Linked DNA regions of Homo sapiens. The protein of the gene in region 2 interacts with the protein of the main gene of each other region in a pairwise test. Each region holds a gene or a part of one and is shown on either strand. Other genes may lie near its edges.

The links.
Region 1: the proteins of KLK4 (region 2) and TYRO3 interact in binary tests that used the Homo sapiens proteins (3 or more experiments, as listed by UniProt).

What each region holds. Positions count from the first base shown.
Region 1 is NC_000015.10:41,552,608-41,564,985, reverse strand, and holds the start of TYRO3 (tyrosine-protein kinase receptor TYRO3 isoform 1 precursor), read right to left. Parts: upstream 5,775-12,378; 5' UTR 5,729-5,774; coding exon 5,605-5,728; intron 5,015-5,604; exon of another isoform or gene 4,690-5,014; intron 3,860-4,689; coding exon 3,676-3,859; intron 3,448-3,675; coding exon 3,347-3,447; intron 2,439-3,346; coding exon 2,268-2,438; intron 803-2,267; coding exon 716-802; intron 1-715. UniProt on the Homo sapiens protein: Receptor tyrosine kinase that transduces signals from the extracellular matrix into the cytoplasm by binding to several ligands including TULP1 or GAS6. Regulates many physiological processes including cell survival, migration and differentiation.
Region 2 is NC_000019.10:50,905,875-50,918,268, reverse strand, and holds KLK4 (kallikrein-4 isoform 1 preproprotein), read left to right. Parts: upstream 1-6,873; 5' UTR 6,874-6,930; intron 6,931-7,519; 5' UTR 7,520-7,530; coding exon 7,531-7,591; intron 7,592-8,854; coding exon 8,855-9,017; exon of another isoform or gene 9,018-9,029; intron 9,030-9,439; coding exon 9,440-9,690; intron 9,691-9,773; coding exon 9,774-9,910; intron 9,911-11,182; coding exon 11,183-11,335; 3' UTR 11,336-11,918; downstream 11,919-12,394. UniProt on the Homo sapiens protein: Has a major role in enamel formation. Required during the maturation stage of tooth development for clearance of enamel proteins and normal structural patterning of the crystalline matrix.

The DNA.
Region 1 (12,378 bases), on a different chromosome or scaffold from region 2:
GAGCAGAGGCAGCAGGAGGCATGGGAGTCAAGCCTTGAGTCTCTCTGAGGGTCCAGGGCATCCCCAACCTAAAGACGGCTACTCAGCACTCCCAGGATCACAGTAGTACACAAATAAGCAACCAGTAGGGCACAGCTGCTCACACCTGGGAGAGTGCCTGGGCTGTGGAGAGAGGTTGCCTCTCCCTGCCACGAAGGCCCTGTGTAACTGAGGAATAAGATGAGAGGGTATGTGGGGGCAGCACCTCAGGCTTGGGAGATACAAGGGAGAGACAGGCAGCTGCCCCTGCAGCCACAGCCTGGCTCCTGCAGACACCCTCTCCCTCCCCCTCTCTCTGTACACCAGCCCTCTGGTCTCCTCCATCCGGTACTAGGCTGTTTTCCCCACCCCCATCCCCTCAAAGGGAGGGGCAGAAACAAGGCTGGGCATGGGCCTTGACCATCTCCTGCTGCCTCCCTCCCTCCTTCCCTCCCTCCCAAGGACTCTGCTTCGTGATGGGAAATCTGCTGTGACGTCAGGATTCTATTCTCATCTCAGCCACGCAGGGTCTCAGGTGCTCCCACTAGGAATGGGAGCTATGCCAATTAACCCCTTGCTCCCTAGATCCCAGCAGGACCACAAGGGGAGCTGGAACACAGAATGATTCTAACTGCTGGACAGCTCGCTGGGAATGCCCCTGGCCTCATCCACCCTTCCTCCCTGCCAGCCCTCCTACCTTGAAGGTGAACAGTGGCTGTGCGAGAAGAGGCCAGGCCTTTTAGGTTGTGAGCTTCACAGGAAAACATGGTGCTCTGGGTCACCCCTGGGGCCAGAAAACCTCAGTCAGCTCCCCAAGCAGCAACCCCACTCAGTGCGGGACTGGGAAAGGGGAATACTCAGGCTCTGGTCTGAACATCCTTAAATCCCTCCTGCCAAAGGAAGGGGCTGGGCAGTGAGGTACGGTGAAATGAACAGGGACACTAGAGTCTGGTGAGCCTGGAGAGGGCTCTGTTTTCTCATCTCTCAAATGGGAGAATTGTGAGAATCAGGTAATGTGTGTCAAGTGCACGGCATGCTAAATAAGCCCTTGAGAAACGTTATACCACCCTCCCACCTCCATCCCATCTCCCACACACAGCACAAATTGCCCCCCTTTTCTGGTCACTCTTTTATTGCGCATACCAGAGTGAGCCCTTCTGTTTGCTCTGTGCCCCCTTGGGGTTGTTATTTGCAGACTCTCTGCCTTGCAGTAGTTCTCAGCTCTTTATGCACATGTCTTGTCTCCCCAGTTATACTCAGTTCTTTAGCTTCTATTTCCTTTGTATTCCCTCTGTCCCCTGTGGTGCCTAGCACAGTGTGGTGTGGAGTAGGAGTTCAGTGAGTGCTTATTATCAGGCTGCCTGCCTGAGGGTCCCAACCACGCACACCTGGAAGGAAGTGAACCCAACCTCCTCTCTAATCTGCTCCAACTCAGCGCCTCCTGAACAGGACCTGCACTTGCTTCCAAGAGGTCTCATAGTCCACCTCTTGTCAAGATTCAAATTGCTGGAGAACCTAGCTCAGCGCCCATTTCCCTGGCACCTTCCAGCACATGAGACCAAGCTCAGACTCCCATCTTTTTTGCCCAATTCAAGCCTCAACCAGAAACAAATAAGCAAGCCTTTGTTTCACAAATAAGCAAGCCTTACAAGCATGTGAGGGTATGTGCCCAAGAAACTTGGGGCCCAGGTGGGTGTGCAGGTGTGACTGTGCAGAGGTATGGACAGACACAGTTGTTTGAGAAAACGTGTGGAGGTTTCCCGGAAAGCGCCATTAGGGGAGGAGGCCCTGTATCTTTGTGCTAACCTCCCCCTACCCCTTCTCTCTCCCTCCTCTCCCCTCTCTGCAGCCTGAGAGTCTTGTCTTCTCAGTGTCTGCCAGATACTCCTCCCTAGTTCTGCGTGGGCTGGTTTCTGGCTCCTTTCCTTGGGAGGGGTGGGGGATGGGTGCCCCTGGTCTCATACAATTCATCTCTGAGGGCCAGCTGTGCATGGCCTGGACTGCTGTGAACCAAAGGTGGCCCCACACCCTCCTTAAGCACACACAGCAGGATCACCACTAATCAGCCCACCCAGCCAGCCTAGCACACCTGACTAATGAGCTTAGTAATGGTGCAGCTCACGTCCCCAGACACTGGGGCTTGCTCTGGACGCTCACAACCGCAAGCTCAGTGGCTGAAACTGCCAGCTTCAGTGCCCTCCAGGACCCAGCTCCTTCTCCACTCCCAGCCCCCTTCTGAGGCTGCTCACCTGTTACATTTAAAACAGATGGAGAGGGAGCGGGTCCCCCGATCTTCGTAGTTCCTCTCCACCAGACAATGGTAACAGGTTCAGGGGGACCCACAGCCTCACAAGACAGTTGGAAAGGGGCATTGGGTGGCACTGCCAGATCTTTTGGCTCCACTGTGAAAAATGGCACACCTAGGAGAGAAGGGGAGTGAGGAGTGAGCCCTGCCACCTCTTGGCTTCCTACTGTACAAATCACAAGTCTGTTTACATCTGAAGTCCTCCACGCAGAAGGTTCCCACAGGCCCCTTATGATTAGGTCAACAGCAGAACAGGCATCTAGCTTGAGAGGTAGGCGGTGCTTCTCTTTTTCAGGCTCCTTAGGAATTTTTTTTTTTTTTTTTTTTTTTTGAGATTGGTCGCGGGGAGGTCTCTCTATGTTGCCCAGGCTGGCCTGGAACTCCTGGGGGCTCAAGTGATCCTCTGGCCTTAGCCTCCGGAGTAGCTGGGACTACAGGCACACGCCACCATGCCTGGCACCTTAGACACATCTTCCATGCTGCCCCCTTAGGCATGGCAGATTTGGACAGCTCTTCTTGCAGTAAGAGAGGAGACTGGGGGTGGAGAGCTGGGAGAGGGGCATAAAACTCAGGGGAGTGGGTGAGAGCTTTAGCAGAGTTCTGCTGCCAGGCCCCAGCTCCCATTCAGGGCCCTTTGTTACTTTCTTAGTCACTTTGTTTTCCTGGGCTGAACAGCTCTGAGCTCCCGCAGCTGCAGAGCCTTCCTCCCCTCCCCCTGCTGGCCAGGCCACTTGGCAGAACAGGGTCCAGTCCCAGATGGATGCTTGAAGCTTGTTGCTCAAGCAACGGAAACAGACTGCACCCCACAGGTTGTGGATCCCAGTTGGTCCCTTGGTTCTCAGATACCCAACTCCAACTGGTAGGGTCTTCCGACATCTGGAGTGGGCCTACAGCCTGGACAACCAGGCCCCACAGAGCAGTGGGGCAGCCCAGCTTCTACTGAGTTCTCCGCTGCAGAGGTATAGTCACCAGCAGACAGCACGTGCTCCAGGCCAACACGCCCATATGGCTCTGCCTCCTCACCTTCTACCGTGAGCCACACTGGCTGGGAGATCTCGGTTTCACCCCCATCCTCCACCTGGCACCAGTACCGGCCGGCGTCAGAGCGCTCCACTGACTTCAGGCTGTGGAAACAGGATACGAGGCTTGCTTCCGAGGGCAAGGGCGGCAGCTCTGCTGGGCAAACTTGATGAGTTCAGCCTGCCCCCACTTCTGGAAGGTCCCACAGGTAGCCAAATAAAAAAACCACAGACCTCTGGGCATCAGGAGAGGGCCCCAGCTCCCAATCCCCAAGGAAAGAGCATAGCCTGCCCCCTGGCTGGCAGCCCACACCTTCCCCCACAGGCCTGCACCTGAGGAAGCCGATCCAGTGCTGCTCGCTGACTGGGATGTACAACTGGTCCAAGTTCTGGACCACAGCCCCATCCTTCACCCACTGGATGTCAGGCTCCTCCATCCCCTCCACACTGCAGTTGAGCTTCACCGGCTGCCCCTGAGACACTGTCAGCTTCACCGGGGCTCCCATGAGCTTCAGACCTGAGGGGTGGGAAGGAACATGTGTCAGCCTTGAGAGGGACTCTGTCTCTGTAAACAGTTCCCATTCTCTTCTAGAAGGTAGCTTCTGTGTCAGACAGAGGGCTCTTTCTCAGCCAAAGTCAAGGAAGCAGAGGTAGGACAGTGTGGAAGGGAAGGTCGCTGGACCTGGGCGAAGGGAAGGGGCATGGCAAGCTCTCCAAGTTCCCTCCGGCTCTAAGGACCTCTTCCCCATGTCCTCCTTCTGAGCCCAGACAGCAAAAGGAAGGCAGGCTGGGCTGAAACGATGGGAGTTACCCTACTGGGGCAGGCACTGCTCTAGGAATGACTGCTGCACCCAACTAGTGCAACAGGCTGCCAGCTCTCCACCCAAGGTGTCAGCCCAGACCCTGAATTGCTGCCAGCACCCTCTGCACCCAACCTTACCAAATGGAGCAGGGCTGAAGAAGGAAAGGAGGGGGTGCTCCCCTGAAGTGGAGAACATATGGCTGCAAAACCACGTCAGATCAAACACATGGCAGCCTTCCTGGCAGCCATCCACTCTATTAATACCTGAATGTGGGCAGGGGCGAGTGCTAGGAAGGTGGGAGGCAGAAGGGAGGGCTGGGGCCCTGAGCAGGGAGCCTAAGACCCCTGAGCCACTGCCACATTAACAGGGGCCACTCTTTGGAACTTGCGTGCGAGCGCGCGCGCGCGCGCGCACACACACACACACACACACACACACACACACACATACACGCACCTCTCCTGGCCTCCTGGCATGTTTTTAAGCAGAGAGAGGGGCAGGTCAAGTATCCACATAACTGAAATCCAGCCCTGCTTCTTCTCACCCTTTGCTGTGTGACTCTAGGCAAAGTCGTGGGCTCCCTGAGCATCAGGTCCGCACCTTTCGGCTTGTAAATACTCGTCACCCCGTTTCCCTTCCCTTCCCTGAGAGGCTGATATGGCAAGGAATGCTGTCTCAAGAGAAGATGCCAGCGGGTGGCCGCTGTCCTGGCCTGTGGCTCTTCCCTGCTCCCTTCACCCTCTCAGGACCAGTCACAGGATGGGGGCCAGCCTCCCGCTCCCTATATGCCCATCAGTCCCCGAGGTGCGGGGTGGGAACTTGGAGAGCACCGTGCTGCATGGAACGCTCTTGTCACCAGCAAATGCCTCAGTGGCTATGTGGGAACACAAGACTAACCCCTCCCAAAGACCAGCAACCTGGCACCAGCCCATCCTCTCCAAGGTTCTGCTTTCAGGAAGCTCTGAGGGCACAGGAACTCGAGTGTGCCCATTTGTTTTTTGTGACTGGGCACCCTCACAGCCCCTGTGTACCTAAATGGTATCAGGGTGGCCTTTGGGTGCCCAGCCCCGGCCCGTGTGGTTTCCGAGGCGGACCTTCGCGTGCGGGGCAGGCAGAATGGGGTCCCCAGTACTGGGAAGGAGGGAGCTAACAGCTGGGAACATCGAGGCGGGAAAATGCAGTCCCAAACACTCCCCGCTGACCACACAGCCCACACCCCGCTCCCTTCTCTTCCACCCCGCCAGAAGAGCCCCGAGCGCCAGAAAGTTGGGGGTGGGGGCCCGGCCGGAGATCTGGCGGCGAGCACTCCGCAGCGTGCCCTGTCCCGGCTCCGAGCCTCGGCCTTCGGCTCCGGACCCCCACCCCGACTCCAGCCCGCCAGGCCCGCCCCGGGCTCCGACCCCCGGCCGCGCCCCTCCGCAGCCCCCCGCTTCCCGCCGCCTCCCGTGCCAGCCCCTACCTGCGGCGGCGGACTCCGGGAGCAGCAGAGAAGCCAGAGCCGCCAGCAGCAGCCCGAGCCGCGGTGGCGGCGGCAGCGGCAGCGGCGGGAGCCCCGGCCGCCCCATGCTCCGCCTCAGCGCCATCGGCGGCGACGCCGCACCATGCCGGGCCCGGCCCGCGAGCGAGGAGGGAGGAGGGCGGGGAGGAGGCGGCGGGAAGGGAGCGGGAGGGAGGAGGGCTGCGGGAGGGGCTGGGGCCGCCCGTGGGGCGGTGCTGAGGCGACCGCCTCCGAGACCCGCGCCCGCCTCCGGCCGCGGTCGCCGCCGTCAGCAGCGCGGGGTCCCCGGGGCCGCTCCCGCGCCACCGCGCTCCTTCCACTGCCGTCGCCGCCGTCGCCGCCGCTGATTCATGTTCTTCTCGGAGCCGCCGCCTCCTCCCGGCCCGCCCGCAGCCCGAGCTCGCACCGCCCCCCCGCGGAGCCCCGGCGACTGGCTCGGAGCGCGAATCCCAGCCAGCGCCGCAAACCCCCGCGGCCCCGCCGGCGCCCCGCCGGCACGCCGGCCCCAGCCGCCCCCTGGCCAAACCTGAGGATCCGGCTTGGCCTCCAGGATGGGCTCCCCGGCCACGCCCCTCCTTTCCCTAAACCCGCTCCGGCATCTTTTCTAACCCAGCCCTCCAGAGCCTTCCCTCAAAACCCCGCTGTCAGCCCCCACCACACCCCAACTCTTGTTCGGACTCTGATCCCAGAATCCAGCATCCCCCTCTCAGGACTTAGAGCACCTCAACCCCTAGACACTCCCATCCATCTGGCTCCCCGAAACTGCCGTGACCCGGGGCTCCCCCAACAGGATCGGCTAGCATCCCTTCGTGCCTCCCTTTCATTGAGCCATTCACCCAAAATCCCCATATTCATGTCCTATTGCCATGCCTTTATCTCCAAGTCCCTCCCACCTGAAAAATGCCCATTTTCTCCAGCCCCAATTGCCGTATGTTTTCCAACTTGGGTCCTGAGTTTCCCAAGATCTTGGTAATCCCCAGGTTTTACCTAATATATATCCCCACCACTACACTACACAGGCCAAAGCCTAATTGCCCGTATCTTTTTGGGCTGTCATTTTTCCTGGTTGCTTCCCCTGCTTCTACCCCTTTTCCCAGGACCTGGTGTGAAAGTTGGCTGTGTCGTCACACTGTCCAGTCAAACATTAGCTATTATTAGTAGACCACCTTGCACACAGTAGGCTTTCCATAAATAAATAGGCAGATGCCTGTTAAATGAATGAATAATTGCTTCAGAGCCTGCCCCACAACCAGTAATCACGAGGGTGGCCTTGCCCACAGACATCCTGTTAGGCACATGCAGAGCTGGTTCCAAACCAAGCCTACCAAGTGTGCTCCTCCCCTTGCCCTTCCCTCCAGGGGGAAGCCCACCCCACACCCCTTCCAGAGGTCCTGGGTAGAGAGGAGGGACCAGCCACTCAGCTCCGGTTGCCGCAGGCTCACTGGATCTTTTCAGGGATTCTCCTGAGCAGCAGGGGCCTGCCTCTTCTTCCACTTGGCCCCAGCAGTGCTTGTTTATTAATTACCCTAATGATAACAACAGCAGTGCTGGCAGCAGCCTGAGACCCAGCTGGGGGCGCCCCCAGGCGGCAGCAGGAGGAGAGACTCATGAGGCACTGTCAAGACATGGATGGCAGGGGCCAGATATCTCTGTCTCTGTTTCTTTCTTTTTTTTTTTTTAATTGGCATATTTGTTTATTTCTCAGTTTGTGAAAATGTTCTTAATTTGTTGATGTAGCAAACAAATTTCAACTTTGATTGCTATGAAAAAAACAAGATAATCTGCTTTGCAATGAACTTTATATAGTTAAACTGCATACAGGCAACATGCTATATATGAAAAAGTTACTAACTGATCTACAGGTATTACATACTGAAAAGAGTTAACAGTTTATTATAATTTATTTTATTTAACAATCTAGGAAGTTCGCAGCCATCAGCAGTTCTAGTACAATTTCAGGTGCAATTGGGAATTCAGGAATCTCGATGGAGCTGTTAGTGTAGCGAACCTTGTAGGTAAAATACATGCATACTTTCGATAGCACATGTGAAGGTATCTCTCTAAAATTGACCTCATTGGTTTCGTTCTCAGCAAACTGACCTCACAGCATAAACAAAAATTAACTTAAGACCAAAGACCTAAATTTAAAAGCCAAACCCATAAAACGCCTGGGCCACTCAACATGGCTTTTATCGTGCCTGATGTTAATGCATGTTCTCTTTTTACAATAAATTCATGGCCATCAGATGATATCAATTTGACATACGTGGCATCAGGGCCTTCACAGCCACCATAGGTTTTCTCCTCTCCATCCATTTTGTTCTTATGAAATTCTACTTTGCTTCCCCAGGAACTTTAGTAGTTTCCTGGTGAGGCGAGGACACAGAGTGTGTGGCTCACTTCCGTCTCCTCTGTCTCTGTTTCACTGAGCTCTCTGGCAATTATGTTCTTCTTCCTTCTTCCTTCTTCTTCCTTCTTTCTTCTTCTTCTTCCTCTCCCTCTCTTCCCCTTCCCCTTCCACTTCCCCTTCCCCTCCTCCTCCTCCTATTCTTCTCTGCTTCTTCCTCTTCCTCTCTTTCTTCTTCTTCTTCTTCTTTTTTTTTTTTAGATGAAGTTTCACGCTTGTCGTCCAGGCTGGAGTGCAATGGTGCGATCTTGGCTGACTGCAACCTCCACCTCATGGGTTCAAGCGATTCTCCTGCCACAGCCTCATGAGTAGCTGGGATTACAGGTGCCCACCACCACGTTCGGCTCATTTTTGTATTATTAGTACAGACAGGGTTTCACCATGTTGGCCAGGCTGGTCTCAAACTCCTGACCTTAGGTAATCCGCCCACCTCGGCATCCCAAAATACTGGGATTACAGGTGTGAGCCACTGTGCCTGGCCTCTCTGCCAATTTTCTTGAGCACTGTGGGTCAGCTTCAGGACCCTTTCCCAAAGGAAAAGTCTCGTTACTTTCCAGAATCCACAGTTTCTGAGTTTGGGCTGAGTCAGGGCAGGCAGACAATAGTCTGGGGCCGAAGGCAGAATTGCCTGGGCTGCTCTTGGGCACTTGTCACTTTTCCAAGCCCTCTCTCCCGCCTTTTCTCTGAGGGGGACTTCAAGTTTCCAGTGAAGGGGAGCCTCCTCCTCTTGATTCCAGCTGACATTAGTAAGATTCATTCTAGAGGATGTTGGACCCAGAGCCCAACCCAGCCTTTTACTTCCTTATCTCTCTTCATTCCCTCCGCACCATTTCCTGAGCTGATAGGGAATCCCACCCTAAAGGCCATCCTTTTCTACTGGTCAAAATGGGCTTCTCGGACATGTGATGGATGCCACTTACAGCCTTGACAAACTTCCCACCTCAGCCACCAGCCTGAGATACATCACTGTCACAGAGGCAGCACACTTTCTGTGTGGGACAGGGGGCCCTGAGTTCCTGCTTCCCCTACCCCTAATTCTAAATCTCTCTCAATTCATAGTATTTCTTTTTTTTTTTTTTTTTTTGAGACGGAGTCCCGCTTTGTCACCCAGGCTGGAGTGCAATGGCGTGATCTCGGCTCACTGCAACCTTCGCCTCCCAAAGTGCTGGGATTACAGGCATGAGCCACCTTGCCCAGCCGTAGTATTTCTACTTACAGGGGCAGAGAGGAGGCCGGGAGCAGTGACTCACACCTGTAATCCCAGCACTTTGGGAGGCCTAGGCAGGCGGATCATGAGGTCAGGAGTTCGATACCAGCCTGGCCAACATGGTGAAACCTCATCTCTACTAAAAATACAAAAATTAGCTGGATGTGGTGGCGGCTGCCTGTAATCCCAGCTACTTACTGAGGAGGCTGAGGCAGGAGAACCACTTGAACCTGGGAGACGGAGGTTGCAGTGAGCCGAGATTGCGCCATTGCACTCCAGCCTGGGCGACAGAGCATGACTCCATCTCAAAAAAAAAAGAAAGAAAGAAAAAAAAAGGGCAGAGAGGAGTGGGGGGTCCTGGTCTTCTGACTTTTCAGCTCCTACAGAGGTTTGACCTCCTGAGCCCTTCTAACCCATTCTCCTTGCTTATCTCCCCCACCTTTCTCTCTCTGGGCACAGTACAGGAATGTGCTTCTAAGGGTATGTGAGCAGGTGTGATTTTGTGGAAGAGACATGTAGGTGGATGAGAGGGTGTGCATTGTGATGTATGAGGGAGGGTGTGCATTTGTGCAAATTCTAAATGTGACTGATGCTTTGTGGGCGGATGGGAAGAAAGTGTGTGCGTGTGGGTGTGGAGGTGTGTGTGTGTCTGTGTGTGACTGGAGGAGGTTGGCTGCCTGTGCAAATGCATGCCTGCAAAAGCTCTTCTTCTTCCATAAATGCATTGTTTGGAAGGAAACTAATAAAATCAACAGGAAATGTTTTTGACCTAATGCGGGAGTGGCTGTCCCAGGAGTTCCTGTCCTTAGAACAGAACCAGAAGCAGCTATACTCTATTCCAGAGGAGTAAGAAGGGGCCGCAAGGGTGGAGGAAGACTGAGTGAGAGGAAGGGCCAGCGGCAGCCCCTGATTATGGATGGGACTAGGTTGGGCACAGCATCTCACTAATCTAGTAAAATAACTCTCTGCCCACTCTCAGCCTTTTATGACCCAGAACTGTTCAAGGAGGCCAAGGATCCAGAGAAGATGAAGACAAACCTGGAGATAAAAACCATTGTCCACAGAAGCAGGGCACTCTGCTACCAACTTCCGGCACTCTGAAGAAGCAGCTGTTTCAGCTTTTTCAGAGTTAAGGCCTTCTGCCCCACCCCTAGAGTGGGGGAAACAAGAGGAAACCATGGTGAGCTGCAGGATCATGACAGTCTCACTGGTCATATAACCAAAGACCTGTTCTTTCCCAACTACTGTCTCAAGAGATAAGAGTTGCCCAGGCGTGATGGCTCCCACCTATAATCACAGCACTTTGGGAGGCTGAGGCGGGAAGATCACCTGAGGTCAGGAGTTCAAGACCGGCCTGGCCAACACGGTGAAACCCTGTCTCTACCAAAAATACAAAAATTAGCCAGATGTGGTGGCGCATGCCTGTAGTCCCAGCTACTTGGGACACTGAAGTGGGAGGATCACTTGAGCCCGGGAGGTGGAGGCTGCAGTGAGCTGAGATGGTGCCACTGCACTCCAGCCTGGGTTACAGAGCGAGATCTTGTCTCAAAAAAAAAAAAAAAAAAAAAAAAAAAAAAGAGGTGAGAGTGGGCAAGTTCCACTCAAGGGATGGGGGGATGGGGCAGGCCACAGACTATGTTCCTCACCTTAGAGAAACCTCTGGGACTGGTAGAAACATTACCTATATGTGTAATTCCACATGTGCTGGGGACTGTTGCTGTCCCTGTCAAACACCCACTGCCTGAAATTCCTAAGCCAGAAACAATGCAACTTCTTGCCCCATCAAAGATGACACAGAAATGTAAATTCCTAAGAAGACCACACTTTGACTTTCAGTCACAGGAAATATTTCAAATGATCAGATTTCCCTCCAAAAGCAGATTTAGGAAGCAGTAGAGCAATAAGGTTGCGGTTTCTGAAAGGGCAGATGGGTCCAAACATGGAAGAAAAACTTTCATCTTCAAAATTTCACCTAAAGATGGCTGTGGAAGAGTTTTGTGTGTGTATGGACACGTGTGTATGTGTGTGTGTATGTGTGTGTGCCTGTGTGTATGCGTGTGTGCGTCTGTATGTATATGTGTGTGTATGCATGTGCGTGTATGTATGTATGCTTGTGTGTGTGCCTGTATGTGCATGTGTGTTAATGCCTTGTATCTGGCTGGCTGTCTTTCTCTATTTGACCCTCTTTAACTGCAGCCTGGTCAGTGAGGGTTTTCTGGCTCTATTTTCTTATTTTATATGTGTATGTATGTATGTACATATTTATTTATTGAGACAGAGTCTCGCTCTGTTGTCCAGGCTGGAGTGCAGTGGCACGATCTCAGCTCACTGCAACCTCTGCCTCCCAGGCTCAAGCGATTCTCCTGACTCAGCCTCCTGAGTAGCTAGGATTACAGGCTCATGCCACCATGCCCAGCTAATTTTTGTATTTTTAGCAGAGACAGGGTTTCATCACGTTGGCCAGGCTGGTCTCGAACTCCTGACCTTGTGATCTGCCCACCTCGGCCTCCCAAAGTGTTGGGATTACAGGCATGAGCCACTGCACCCAGTCATATTATTTTGTATTATGGAATATTTCTTTTTCTTTTTTTTTTTTTTTTTTTAAGACTGAGTCTTGCTCTGTCACCCAGGCTGGAGTGCAGTGGTGCTATCTCAGCTCATTGCAACCTCGGCCTCCCGGTTCAAGCGATTCTTCTGCCTCAGCCTCCCGAGTAGCTGGGACTACAGGCACATGCCACCATGCCCAGCTAATTTTTGTATTTTTAGTAAAGATGGGGTTTCACCATATTGGCCAGGCTGGTCTTGAGCTCCTGACTTGTGATCCACTTGCCTCGGCCTCCCAAAGTACTGGGATTAGAGTCGTGAGTCACTGTGCCCAGCGGAATATTTCAAACATACATGCAAGTAGAGAGAACAGTATAATGAGTGAATCCCCAGTGTACCTGGCATCCTGCTTCAATGACTATCTTAGTCAATTGTATTTCATTGTCCTAGTTTGTTGTTTTGCTGGGTTTTTTTTTTCTTCAACTTTTATTCCTAACCGCTAGACAACCAGAGATTGCTAAAGTTTGTTTTTTTTTTGTTTGTTTTTTTTTTTTTTGAGACAGAGTCTTGCTTTGTC
Region 2 (12,394 bases):
TCCCTTGACCACACCTGCCCACTATGGCCTGCACAATTAGATCTTAATTGATTTCAGTCTGCTCCAGGCCCACTGCCCCTGTCCCCATCTGCCTGGCAAGAAATGTCACAGCTACTTTGGGGTCCCATCCATCCTCCTTCTTCTGTAGAGTGATGTCTGATGACTCAGCTTGGTTGCTGCTAGAAAAATGGGGGATGCCCAGGCCCTTGGTTAATGAGGCCACCATCATAACTTCTGCTCCTTTGGTTTTTGTGGGGTTTTGGGGTGATATTTTTTTTTTTTTTTGGTGAGTTTGTGTGTGAGACAGTCTCACTCTGTCGCTAGGCTGGAGTGCAGTGGCGTGATCTTGGCTTACTGCAATCTCCACCTCCTGGGTTCAAGTGATTCTCGTGCCTCAGCCTCCCAAGTAGCTGAGATTACAGGCACGCACCACCAAGCCCGGCTAATTTTTTGTACTTTTAATAAAGACGGGGTTTCAACATGTTGGCCAGGCTGGTCTCAAACTCCTGACCTCAGGTGATCTACCCGCCTTGGCCTCCCAAAGTGCTAGGATTACAGGCATGAGCCACCATGCCCAGCCTTGTTTGTTTTTGCTCTCACAGGCTGGAGTGCAGTGGTGTGATCTTGGCTCACGGCAGCCTTGAACTCCTGGGCTCAAGCGATCCTCCTCCTGCCTCAGCCTCCTGAGTAGCTGGGACGACAGGTGTGCACCACTATGCCTGGCTAATTTATTTTTAGTAGTGACGGGGTCTTGCTATGTTGCCTAGGCTGGCCTCGAACCCCTGAGCTCAAGTGATCCATCTGCCTCAGCCTCCCAAAGTGCTGGGATTACAGGCGTTAGCCACTGTGCCCAGCCCTCCTTTATTATTTACTGGGGTTCTTCTACTTGCTGCTGCAGAGTGGCTAGAAGATCCTCCCCAGAGTGGTCCCCCCAGCCCACAGCCATCCTCCCATCTTGCTGGCAAACAGGCTGTGTTCTCTCTGCCTCCCTGCACCTCCCTCATGCTGGAGTGAGCTCCATCTTTCCTTCTCCCAAAGTCCGTCTCTCCATCCTCCTCCCCACTTCTGGAGGAGATCCCAGGATTGCACCATTCAGTCCCAGCCTCTCTCCTCTTGAGACCGGAGCAGGAAAAGGAGCCACTCACACCAGGACTTTTGAGTTTTCTTCCTACTGAATATCCTATCGTCCATACTAAGGAAGGAAAAGACTTTTCTTGTGTAATACAATCTGCCCCAAGGTAGCCTTATGTTATTGAATAAAAGGCAAGGATGGGCCGGGTGTGGTGGTGTGTGCCTGTAATCCCCACTATTCGGGAGGCTGAGGCAGGGGAATTGCTTGAACCTGGGAGGAGTAGGTTGCAGTGAACCGAGATCCCACCACTGGACTCCAGCCTGGGCGACAGAGCGAGACTCCATCTCAAAAAAAAAAAAAAAAAAAAAAAAAGCAAGAGTGATGCCTTCTTCCACCCTTGAGGTTTGTTCAAATCCAGCCGACAGGAGTTCCCTGAGGTTACTGAGGAAAACTCAGGGGTCAGTTCCCTAAGGGCTGCTCTGGGCACCTCAGCAGAGATGGCTGGGGCTGCCTCGGGGCCTTAGTGCAGCGGCACCACTGCATCCAGAGATTCATGCCTCTTGTGGCTCAGCCAGCCCCCAGGGGGATGGGAGGTAGAAGGGGCTTGTTCTTCCAGTTATACAGTAAGAGCGGGCTCTCTCGGTGGGCGGGTGGCCCCGTCTGTGGCCGCATTCCCTCCCCTCCCCAGCAATACTCCCTGGCTTCTCTGGCTGAGGCTGCATCTCATCCGCAGGTGGGGGTGAACTCAGATGACTCAGATGATGGATAGTGGGCCAGGGTGGGCCCCCATGACCTGTGTATCTACAGGAAGGCCCACCTGTCCTTTGGCTTCAGCTTCTGTTTCCTGACTTATAGAGAGAGGTGGCATAACAGCTCAAGATATGGGCTCTGGGGTCAGGCAGCCCATGTGCATGGCTGCTTTGCTGTGTGATCTTCAATAAGTAGCTTGCCCTCTCTGTGCGTTCATTTCCTCTTTCATCACATTGGGAATAATGATGAGTACCTCAGGGAGTTATGAAAATTAAAACTAGTTAACTTGTATAAAATTGTTACCATGACAACTAGAAGAGAGGTGATAGATAAATGTTAGATATTTTATCATTATTATTATTACTTGTTTGTTTTCTGAGACAGAGTTTCACTCTTGTTACCTAGGCTGGAGTGCAATGGCGCGATCTCGACTCACTGCAACCTCTGCCTCCCGGGTTCAAGTAATTCTCCTGCCTCAGCCTCCCAAGTTGCTGGGATTACAGGGGCCCACCACCACGCCCAGGTAATTTTTGTATTTTTAGTAGAGATGGGGTTTTGCCATGTTGGCCAGGCTGGTCTCGAACTCCTGACCTCAGATGATCCACCCGCCTCAGCCTCCCAAAGTGCTGGGATTGCAGGCGTGAGCCACCGCGCCCAACCTGATATTTTATTATTTTTAAAGTGATGATTATTCCTAATTCCTGAGACGTGTCTCTCTTTCAGCGTCTTCCTATCTTTTTGGCCACATCTCTCAGTGTGTTCCCAGCTCTCTCCTACTCTCCATCTACCCACTTCTGTCTGTTCTTCTCTTTTGGCCTCAGTCTTTCTGTGACCTTGGTAAACTACTTACCCTCTCTGTGCCTCAGTTTCTCCATCTGTCAAACAAAGTTCATAGCAGCATCTACTTCTTAGATTTTTTTGAGGAATACATTTGTTATTGCATTTAAAATACTTAGAAGAGGGCCAGACATAAGGTAAGTTCTTGACCTCCTTACAATTAATTTAACATATTCTAAAGGTTAATTAATAGTAAGCTACCATTGTTGTCTGTTGTTATTTTCTCTCTCCGTCAGCCTTCATCTCTCCCTCTCCTGTCTGTCTCTCTCTATTTTTGTATCTCCCTTTATCCATCCACTCAACACATCTGCAGTGAATAGTTTTTATCAGTGAACATAACAGACACCAGCCCTGTCCCCAAGGGGCTCCCACACTAATGAAAGAAACAGCTACTAGAAAAATAAACACACAAGACGGGCGCGGTGGCTCTCGCCTGTAATCCCAGCACTTTGGGAGGCCAAGGTGGGCGGATCACCTGAAGTCAGGAGTTTGAGACCAGCCTAGCCAACATGGTGAAACCCCATCTCTACTAAAAATACAAAAATTAGCCAGAATTGGTGGCAGGCACCTATAATCCCAGTTACTGGGGAGGCTGAGGCAGGAGAATCGCTTGAACCCGGGGGGCGGAGGTTGCAGTGAGCAGAGATCGCACCACTCTACTCCAGCCTGGGTAACACAGTGAGACTCCATCTCAAAGAAACAAACAAACAAACAAAAAAGAAAAAAAAAGAAAAAGAAACACATAATAATACGTGTATACATTGTACCAAATTCTCTAAAGGAGCATGTAGGATGCTATAAGATGAAAAAACAAATAGGGGAGTGAAGACCCTGAATCAGACTAGGGGAGGGCTCAGGGAAGGGCTCTGAAGAAGTAACACTTGAGTTGAGACACAATGAAGAGAGCGAAGGGAGAAGTGTTGGAAGCGCATGGAAAACAAAGACAGAGCAACATGAGAGAAGACAGGAGGAAAGTGGAGACAGAGAAAGATAGACAGAGACAAAGGTGCAGAGCCACAGACAGAGAGACAGAGACAGAGATGGGAGGAGAGAGACACAGAGAAAGATGGACAGAGACAGGTGCGGAGACACAGACAGAGAGACAGAGACAGAGATGGGAGGAGAGAGACACAGAGAAAGATGGACAGACACACAGGTGCGGAGACACAGACAGAGAGACAGAGACAGAGATGGGAGGAGAGAGAGACACAGAGAAAGATGGACAGAGACATGTGCGAAGCCACAGACAGAGAGACAGAGACAGAGATGGGAGGAGAGAGAGAGACACAGAGAAAGATGGACAGAGACACAGGTGCGGAGACACAGACAGAGAGACAGAGACAGAGATGGGAGGAGAGAGACACAGAGAAAGATGGACAGACACACAGGTGCGGAGACACAGACAGAGAGACAGAGACAGAGATGGGAGGAGAGAGACACAGAGAAAGATGGACAGACACAGGTGCAGAGACAGACAGAGAGACAGAGACAGAGATGGGAGGAGAGAGACACAGAGAAAGATGGACAGACAGGTGCGGAGACAGACAGAGAGACAGAGACAGAGATGGGAGGAGAGAGAGACAGAGAAAGATGGACAGACACACAGGTGCGGAGACACAGACAGAGAGACAGAGACAGAGATGGGAGGAGAGAGAGACACAGAGAAAGATGGACAGAGACAGGTGCGAAGCCACAGACAGAGAGACAGAGACAGAGATGGGAGGAGAGAGAGACACAGAGAAAGATGGACAGAGACACAGGTGCGGAGACACAGACAGAGAGACAGAGACAGAGATGGGAGGAGAGAGAGACACAGAGAAAGATGGACAGACACACAGGTGCGGAGACACAGACAGAGAGACAGAGACAGAGATGGGAGGAGAGAGACACAGAGAAAGATGGACAGACACAGGTGCAGAGACAGACAGAGAGACAGAGACAGAGATGGGAGGAGAGAGACACAGAGAAAGATGGACAGACAGGTGCGGAGACAGACAGAGAGACAGAGACAGAGATGGGAGGAGAGAGACACAGAGAAAGATGGACAGAGACAGGTGCGGAGCCACAGACAGAGACAGAGATGGGAGGAGAGAGACACAGAGAAAGATGGACAGACACAGGTGCAGAGACACAGACAGAGAGAGAAGGCAAGGTGAGACAGAGACAGGAGGAAAGAGAGACACACAGGGGCAGACAGAGACAGACAGAGATCAGAGGGTCACAGACAGAGGTCAGAGGGAGAGCGAGAGAGAAGGGATCAGAGAGAGAAAGGGACAGGGACAGGGAAAAGAGAGACAGAGACAGAAACCTGCCAGGGCTTCCTGTTCTGTGGTCCCAGCCTATGTCCCGTCCTGCCCAGAGTTATCTGGGGGCGCACGGGCCCAGGACAGAGTTGGGGGAGGGTCTCACTTGGGATGCTTCCAGTCTGGCAGGTGAGAGAAACAGAGACAAGGGGGAGAGAGACAGAGATGGGACCAGAGAGGCAGAGGAAAAGAGAGCCAGAGAGAAAGAGAGACAGACACACGGGGTGGGCTGTGGGGGAAAGAAGTAAGGAAGGAGAAGGAAAGAGTGTTAGAGACCCAGGAGAGACAGAGAGACACAGAGACATTCCTGCCTCGTCGCGGTCACCTGCGGGCACTATCCCTCACCCGCGCCGGCTCCGCGGTCTACACCCACCCACTCCTTGGATGATCTCACCCGGCCTCGTGGCTGTAAACACCACCTCTCCCCTGATGAGTCCCCGCTGTTTCTCGGCAGTCCTGACCTCGGCCTGCCCCTCCGTGCACCCTCCGCGGTCTACGGCACCCTCTCACCCCCCACCCCCCTTCCCGCACCTATGCGTCTCCACAAGATCCGTAGAGCGCAAGCCAGCAGACCAAGCCTCCACGCCATCCTTGGCCCCTCTGCTCCTGGCCCCCCACTTTCCATCCATCGGGCAGTAACTTGGCTCCACATGCAGAGGGGACCCCGTGTCCATTCACCTCTCTTCTCCCTTGACCCCGTCACCTCCCACCTGGGCTGTTGCCACTGCCCCCCGCCCCGCCCCCACCATCACTCTCCAAGCTGGAAGTTTTTAAAAAGTAAATAAGATTATGTCACTCCATCCTCGTGCTTAAAATCCATTGCACTTAAGTAAAACCCAAGCTCCTTAATCCTGGTACGTAAACTCCTGCAGGCCCGCCCGGTTCCCGGTCTGCGCTCCTACCCGCCCTGCCCTCCTACCCGCCCTGCCCTCCTCTGGCTGGAGCCAAGTTCTCCCCTGCACCCCGCAACCGCCCCTGCTGCGGCGACCCTCCTCCTCCTCTTCCCTGGGATCTCAGCTTAAATGTTCCCCTTCTCTGAGTCTCCCCGACCACCACCTTATATGCTGGTCCCTGCAGTTTTCCTTTATGGTCTGTGCCCCCGGGTAGGACGCGATCCCCAGTGACGAGGACTTTGCTGGTTCCTCCTGTGGCCCCAGCACCTGCCGCAGAGCTCGGAGTGTGGTAGGCACTCAGCTGCTTTTCACTGAGCGAAGACTTTTTAGTTCTCCCGCTCACCGAGAGCCTACAATGTGCCTGGCACTGTGTGCCTTTCCCTGAATTACCTCTTTGAATCCACTTGGGAAATGGGGCATAATGGTCACTCCAGTTTTACAGTTGGAAAAACAGGCTCACAGGGGTGCAGTCACTTGCCCAAGGTTCCAAAAATAGTTCGTGATGTAGGCTGGATACGAACCTGGGGAAATTTGCTGGAGAAGCACAGAAAGAGAGGGATGAAGGAGGAGGGGAGAGAGAGAGAGAGATTTAATTTAAAAAGAGAAAGAACATGAGAGAGAACAGGAGAGAATGAGAGGAAATGAAAGAAAACACGAGAAAAATAATGAGAGAGAGAATGAGAGAAAGAAAGAAGAAGAGAAAGAGAAAATGAGAGATACAGGCAAGAGAGAGGTATCTCATGAGAGAGAATAAGAACATGAAAAGAGAAAGAATGAGAGAGAGAGAGAGAAAGAAAAAGGAGAGTGGAGTCTAGGATCTGGGCAGGGGTCTCCTCCCTGGGTCCCTAGACCCTGCTGCCAGCCCCTTCTGGGCCCCCAACCACTGCCTGGTCAGAGTTGAGGCAGCCTGAGAGAGTTGAGCTGGAAGTTTGCAGCACCTGACCCCTGGAACACATCCCCTGGGGGCAGGCCAGCCCAGGCTGAGGATGCTTATAAGCCCCAAGGAGGCCCCTGCGGGAGGCAGCAGGCTGGAGCTCAGCCCAGCAGTGGAATCCAGGAGCCCAGAGGTGGCCGGGTAAGAGGCCTGGTGGTCCCCCACTAAAAGCCTGCAGTGTTCATGATCCAACTCTCCCTACAGCTCCATGTCGCTGGATTCTCAGCCTCTGTGCCTTCTGTCTCCACATCTCTCTAGACAGATCTCTCACTGTCTCTAGTTAGGAGTCACTGTCTCTAGTTAGGGGTCTCTCTGTCTCTCTGAATCTATATCTCCATGTCTAACTCTCAGACTGTCTCTGAGGATATCTCTCAAGCACTCTGTCTCTCCGGCTCTGATTCTCTGTGTGTCTTCCCTCCATGCTTGTTTGTGGGTGGCTAGACACCATCTCTCCCCATTCACAGATGGCTAGATGCTTTCTCTAAACTTTCCTTTCTACCTAGTTCTCTCTCTCTCTCTCTTTTCCCATCTCTCTCTCTCTTTTTCTCTCTCAGTCTCTAAATCTGTCTCTCTAGGTTCTGGGTCCATGGATGGGAGAGGGGGTAGATGGTCTAGGCTCTTGCCTACCTAATAACGTCCCAGAGGGAAGAAAGGGAGGGACAAAGAGAGGGATGGAGAGACTTGGGCTGAAGATCCCCAGACACGGCTAAGTCTCAGTCCTCATCCCCAGGTGCTGACGTGATGGCCACAGCAGGAAATCCCTGGGGCTGGTTCCTGGGGTACCTCATCCTTGGTGTCGCAGGTATCTGAGTATGCGTGTGTGTGTCTGTCCGTGCTTGGGGGCACAGTGTTTGTTAATGTTCAGGTGTGACTCAGTGTCCTCTTGCTTGTGACTGCAAAGCTGCCTGTGAGACGGTACCGTGTTATCCGTCCCCCATGGCTGTGCCCCTGCAACTCCTTGTATCGTGGTAAATTTGTGTGTGGCAGTGTGCCTGGGTGTGTGGTTGTACCTGTGAGACTCTGACAGTTTGTGCCTCTGAATATCTGGTGGAGTGACAACAGTGTAATGATGATATGGGGACAGGGGAAGCCGAGGGTGCAGGAGATTGTGCTTCCTGGGGCGTGATCCATTGCTGGGAATCTGTGCCTGCTTCCTGGGTCTTCAGTCCTGAGATCCCCCTCTCCCATCCCCAAGGAACTCACCTCACAGGACTATAAAACGGTGTTTTGGTGTGCATGGGCTTGTGGCTTGGTGTGACTGTGGGCAAGGCTGGGAGAGGATAGGAGTGACTCGGCGCAGGACCGACTCTTTGAGCATCAGTCTGCGCAGACAAGTGACCCGATCCTTGCTCCCAGCAACAACTCCACCCCCTGAGCTTTAATTCACCCCGAAGGACCCGATCCTACTGCTATGAGCCTAGACTCCTCTGTTGAACCCCTCCTGACCGTGGCTTTGCACCGCGATGGCACCAGTCTCACCTCCAGAGCTCACCCCAGAGCCCTGACTCCGCCCCAGAAGCCCTGGTCCCACCTTCTGAGACTGCCTCTAGCCATAACCCAGCTCTTGAAGCCTTGATGGCGCCCCTGCGCTGTAACCCCAACCCTAGGAGCACTGATCCCGCCTTCTCAGCCCACCCCCATGCCCTGACTCTCCTCCCAGGAGCCCTGACTACCCTGAATCCCTGACCAGGCTCCTGCACCGTGATCACCGCCCCTGGGAGCCCTAGGCCTATATCCTGGACCAGCCCCTGAAGCTCCGATCATGACCCCTGCACCATAACCCCACCCCCAGGAGCCCTGGGTCCGCCCCCTGGGCCCGCCCCCAGCCCTGACTCGGCCCCCCAAGAGTCCTGACTGCTCCTGAAGCCCTGACCACGCCCCTGCTCGGTAACCCCTCCCCCAAGAGCCCTGGGCCCGCCTCCTGAGCCCGTTCCCAGCCCTGACTCCGCCCCGAGGAGCCCTGACTGCTCCTGAACCTCTGACCACGCCCCTGCTCGGTAAGCCCACCCCCAGGAACCCTGGGCCCGCCTCCTGGTCCCGATCCCATCCCTGACTCCGCCCTCAGGATCGCTCGTCTCTGGTAGCTGCAGCCAAATCATAAACGGCGAGGACTGCAGCCCGCACTCGCAGCCCTGGCAGGCGGCACTGGTCATGGAAAACGAATTGTTCTGCTCGGGCGTCCTGGTGCATCCGCAGTGGGTGCTGTCAGCCGCACACTGTTTCCAGAAGTGAGTGCAGAGGTAGGGGGAGTGGGCAGGGCCTGGGTCCGGGGGCGGGGCCTAATATCAGGCTCATCTTGGGGTGCTCAGGGGGAAACAGCGGTGAAGGCTCTGGGAGGAGGACGGAATGAGCCTGGATCCGGGGAGCCCCAGAGGGAAGGGCTGGGAGGCGGGAATCTTGCTTCGGAAGGACTCAGAGAGTCCTGACTTGAAATCTCAGCCCAGTGCTGAGTCTCTAGTGAACTAAGGCAAGTTCTTGTCCCTGAATTTTTGTGAATGAGGATTTGAGACCATGGTTAAGTAGCTCTTAGGGTGTTTAGCGAAGAGGGTGGGGTTGGGGTTAGGAGATGGGGATGGGAATGGGGTTGAAGATGAGAATGGAGGTAAGGATGTAGTTGCCACAAAACTGACCTGCCCTCCGTGGCCCACAGCTCCTACACCATCGGGCTGGGCCTGCACAGTCTTGAGGCCGACCAAGAGCCAGGGAGCCAGATGGTGGAGGCCAGCCTCTCCGTACGGCACCCAGAGTACAACAGACCCTTGCTCGCTAACGACCTCATGCTCATCAAGTTGGACGAATCCGTGTCCGAGTCTGACACCATCCGGAGCATCAGCATTGCTTCGCAGTGCCCTACCGCGGGGAACTCTTGCCTCGTTTCTGGCTGGGGTCTGCTGGCGAACGGTGAGCTCACGGGTGTGTGTCTGCCCTCTTCAAGGAGGTCCTCTGCCCAGTCGCGGGGGCTGACCCAGAGCTCTGCGTCCCAGGCAGAATGCCTACCGTGCTGCAGTGCGTGAACGTGTCGGTGGTGTCTGAGGAGGTCTGCAGTAAGCTCTATGACCCGCTGTACCACCCCAGCATGTTCTGCGCCGGCGGAGGGCAAGACCAGAAGGACTCCTGCAACGTGAGAGAGGGGAAAGGGGAGGGCAGGCGACTCAGGGAAGGGTGGAGAAGGGGGAGACAGAGACACACAGGGCCGCATGGCGAGATGCAGAGATGGAGAGACACACAGGGAGACAGTGACAACTAGAGAGAGAAACTGAGAGAAACAGAGAAATAAACACAGGAATAAAGAGAAGCAAAGGAAGAGAGAAACAGAAACAGACATGGGGAGGCAGAAACACACACACATAGAAATGCAGTTGACCTTCCAACAGCATGGGGCCTGAGGGCGGTGACCTCCACCCAACAGAAAATCCTCTTATAACTTTTGACTCCCCAAAAACCTGACTAGAAATAGCCTACTGTTGACGGGGAGCCTTACCAATAACATAAATAGTCGATTTATGCATACGTTTTATGCATTCATGATATACCTTTGTTGGAATTTTTTGATATTTCTAAGCTACACAGTTCGTCTGTGAATTTTTTTAAATTGTTGCAACTCTCCTAAAATTTTTCTAATGTGTTTATTGAAAAAATCCAAGTATAAGTGGACTTGTGCAGTTCAAACCAGGGTTGTTCAAGGGTCAACTGTGTACCCAGAGGGAAACAGTGACACAGATTCATAGAGGTGAAACACGAAGAGAAACAGGAAAAATCAAGACTCTACAAAGAGGCTGGGCAGGGTGGCTCATGCCTGTAATCCCAGCACTTTGGGAGGCGAGGCAGGCAGATCACTTGAGGTAAGGAGTTCAAGACCAGCCTGGCCAAAATGGTGAAATCCTGTCTGTACTAAAAATACAAAAGTTAGCTGGATATGGTGGCAGGCGCCTGTAATCCCAGCTACTTGGGAGGCTGAGGCAGAAGAATTGCTTGAATATGGGAGGCAGAGGTTGAAGTGAGTTGAGATCACACCACTATACTCCAGCTGGGGCAACAGAGTAAGACTCTGTCTCAAAAAAAAAAAAAAAAAAAAGACTTTACAAAGAGATGCAGAGACACTGAGACAGATAAACAAGCCACAAAGGAGACAAAGGAGAGACAGACAAACAGAAACAGACAGACCACAAGCCCAAGAGAAGCAGCCAGCATTCAGGACATAGGACATCGGGAAGCAGGATTAGATGAAGTCAGGGATCTGGAATGGGACTTCCAACAGATATGTTGCTGGGCTATGTTGTTATTGATGATGGTTCTGTCTTTGTTTCTCAGTCTCATTTAGTTCCTTTCTGAGCCCACATCCATTTCCACCTCTCTGTGTTTTGAATTCTGACTCTCCCTCTCTTCACAACAGGGTGACTCTGGGGGGCCCCTGATCTGCAACGGGTACTTGCAGGGCCTTGTGTCTTTCGGAAAAGCCCCGTGTGGCCAAGTTGGCGTGCCAGGTGTCTACACCAACCTCTGCAAATTCACTGAGTGGATAGAGAAAACCGTCCAGGCCAGTTAACTCTGGGGACTGGGAACCCATGAAATTGACCCCCAAATACATCCTGCGGAAGGAATTCAGGAATATCTGTTCCCAGCCCCTCCTCCCTCAGGCCCAGGAGTCCAGGCCCCCAGCCCCTCCTCCCTCAAACCAAGGGTACAGATCCCCAGCCCCTCCTCCCTCAGACCCAGGAGTCCAGACCCCCCAGCCCCTCCTCCCTCAGACCCAGGAGTCCAGCCCCTCCTCCCTCAGACCCAGGAGTCCAGACCCCCCAGCCCCTCCTCCCTCAGACCCAGGAGTCCAGCCCCTCCTCCCTCAGACCCAGGAGTCCAGACCCCCCAGCCCCTCCTCCCTCAGACCCAGGGGTCCAGGCCCCCAACCCCTCCTCCCTCAGACTCAGAGGTCCAGGCCCCCAACCCCTCCTTCCCCAGACCCAGAGGTCCAGGTCCCAGCCCCTCCTCCCTCAGACCCAGCGGTCCAATGCCACCTAGACTCTCCCTGTACACAGTGCCCCCTTGTGGCACGTTGACCCAACCTTACCAGTTGGTTTTTCATTTTTTGTCCCTTTCCCCTAGATCCAGAAATAAAGTCTAAGAGAAGCGCAGGTTCTGTTTGTAGTGTCCTCCTTGCTTCCCCTTCCATTCAAGAGATTCCAGCAAATGGCTTTCCCTCCATGGGTCGCATTTCCCTATCTGGGAAATGCGAGCTTTGACCAGGAGGGCCACAGAGTTTCAGAGGGAGGGGCCATTCCCTGGATAGTTAAGAGAAACCAGTGCCATGGATGTTGTCCAGTTTCTGAAAAGTCAGGTCAGCAAATGGTAACCGTAGAGATTTTCTTGCTTAGTTTAACTATTCAGCTTTAGTTGATCTATATTCATTTTTGTCTTCTTAACTGCATTTCAAGAATTTTTAATTTGCATGTGTCTCAGAAGTTGGCTGCTGCAGCTAGAGTCTAGTGGGGAGAATTGTGGCGAGGGCTACTGTGAGTGACAGCAACAGAGACCAAGGAGTAGAAAGAGGGAAGTTTGAGGGGCACAATGGGGCAACTGAGGGGCAAGGAGATGGGAGACTGAATAAGTA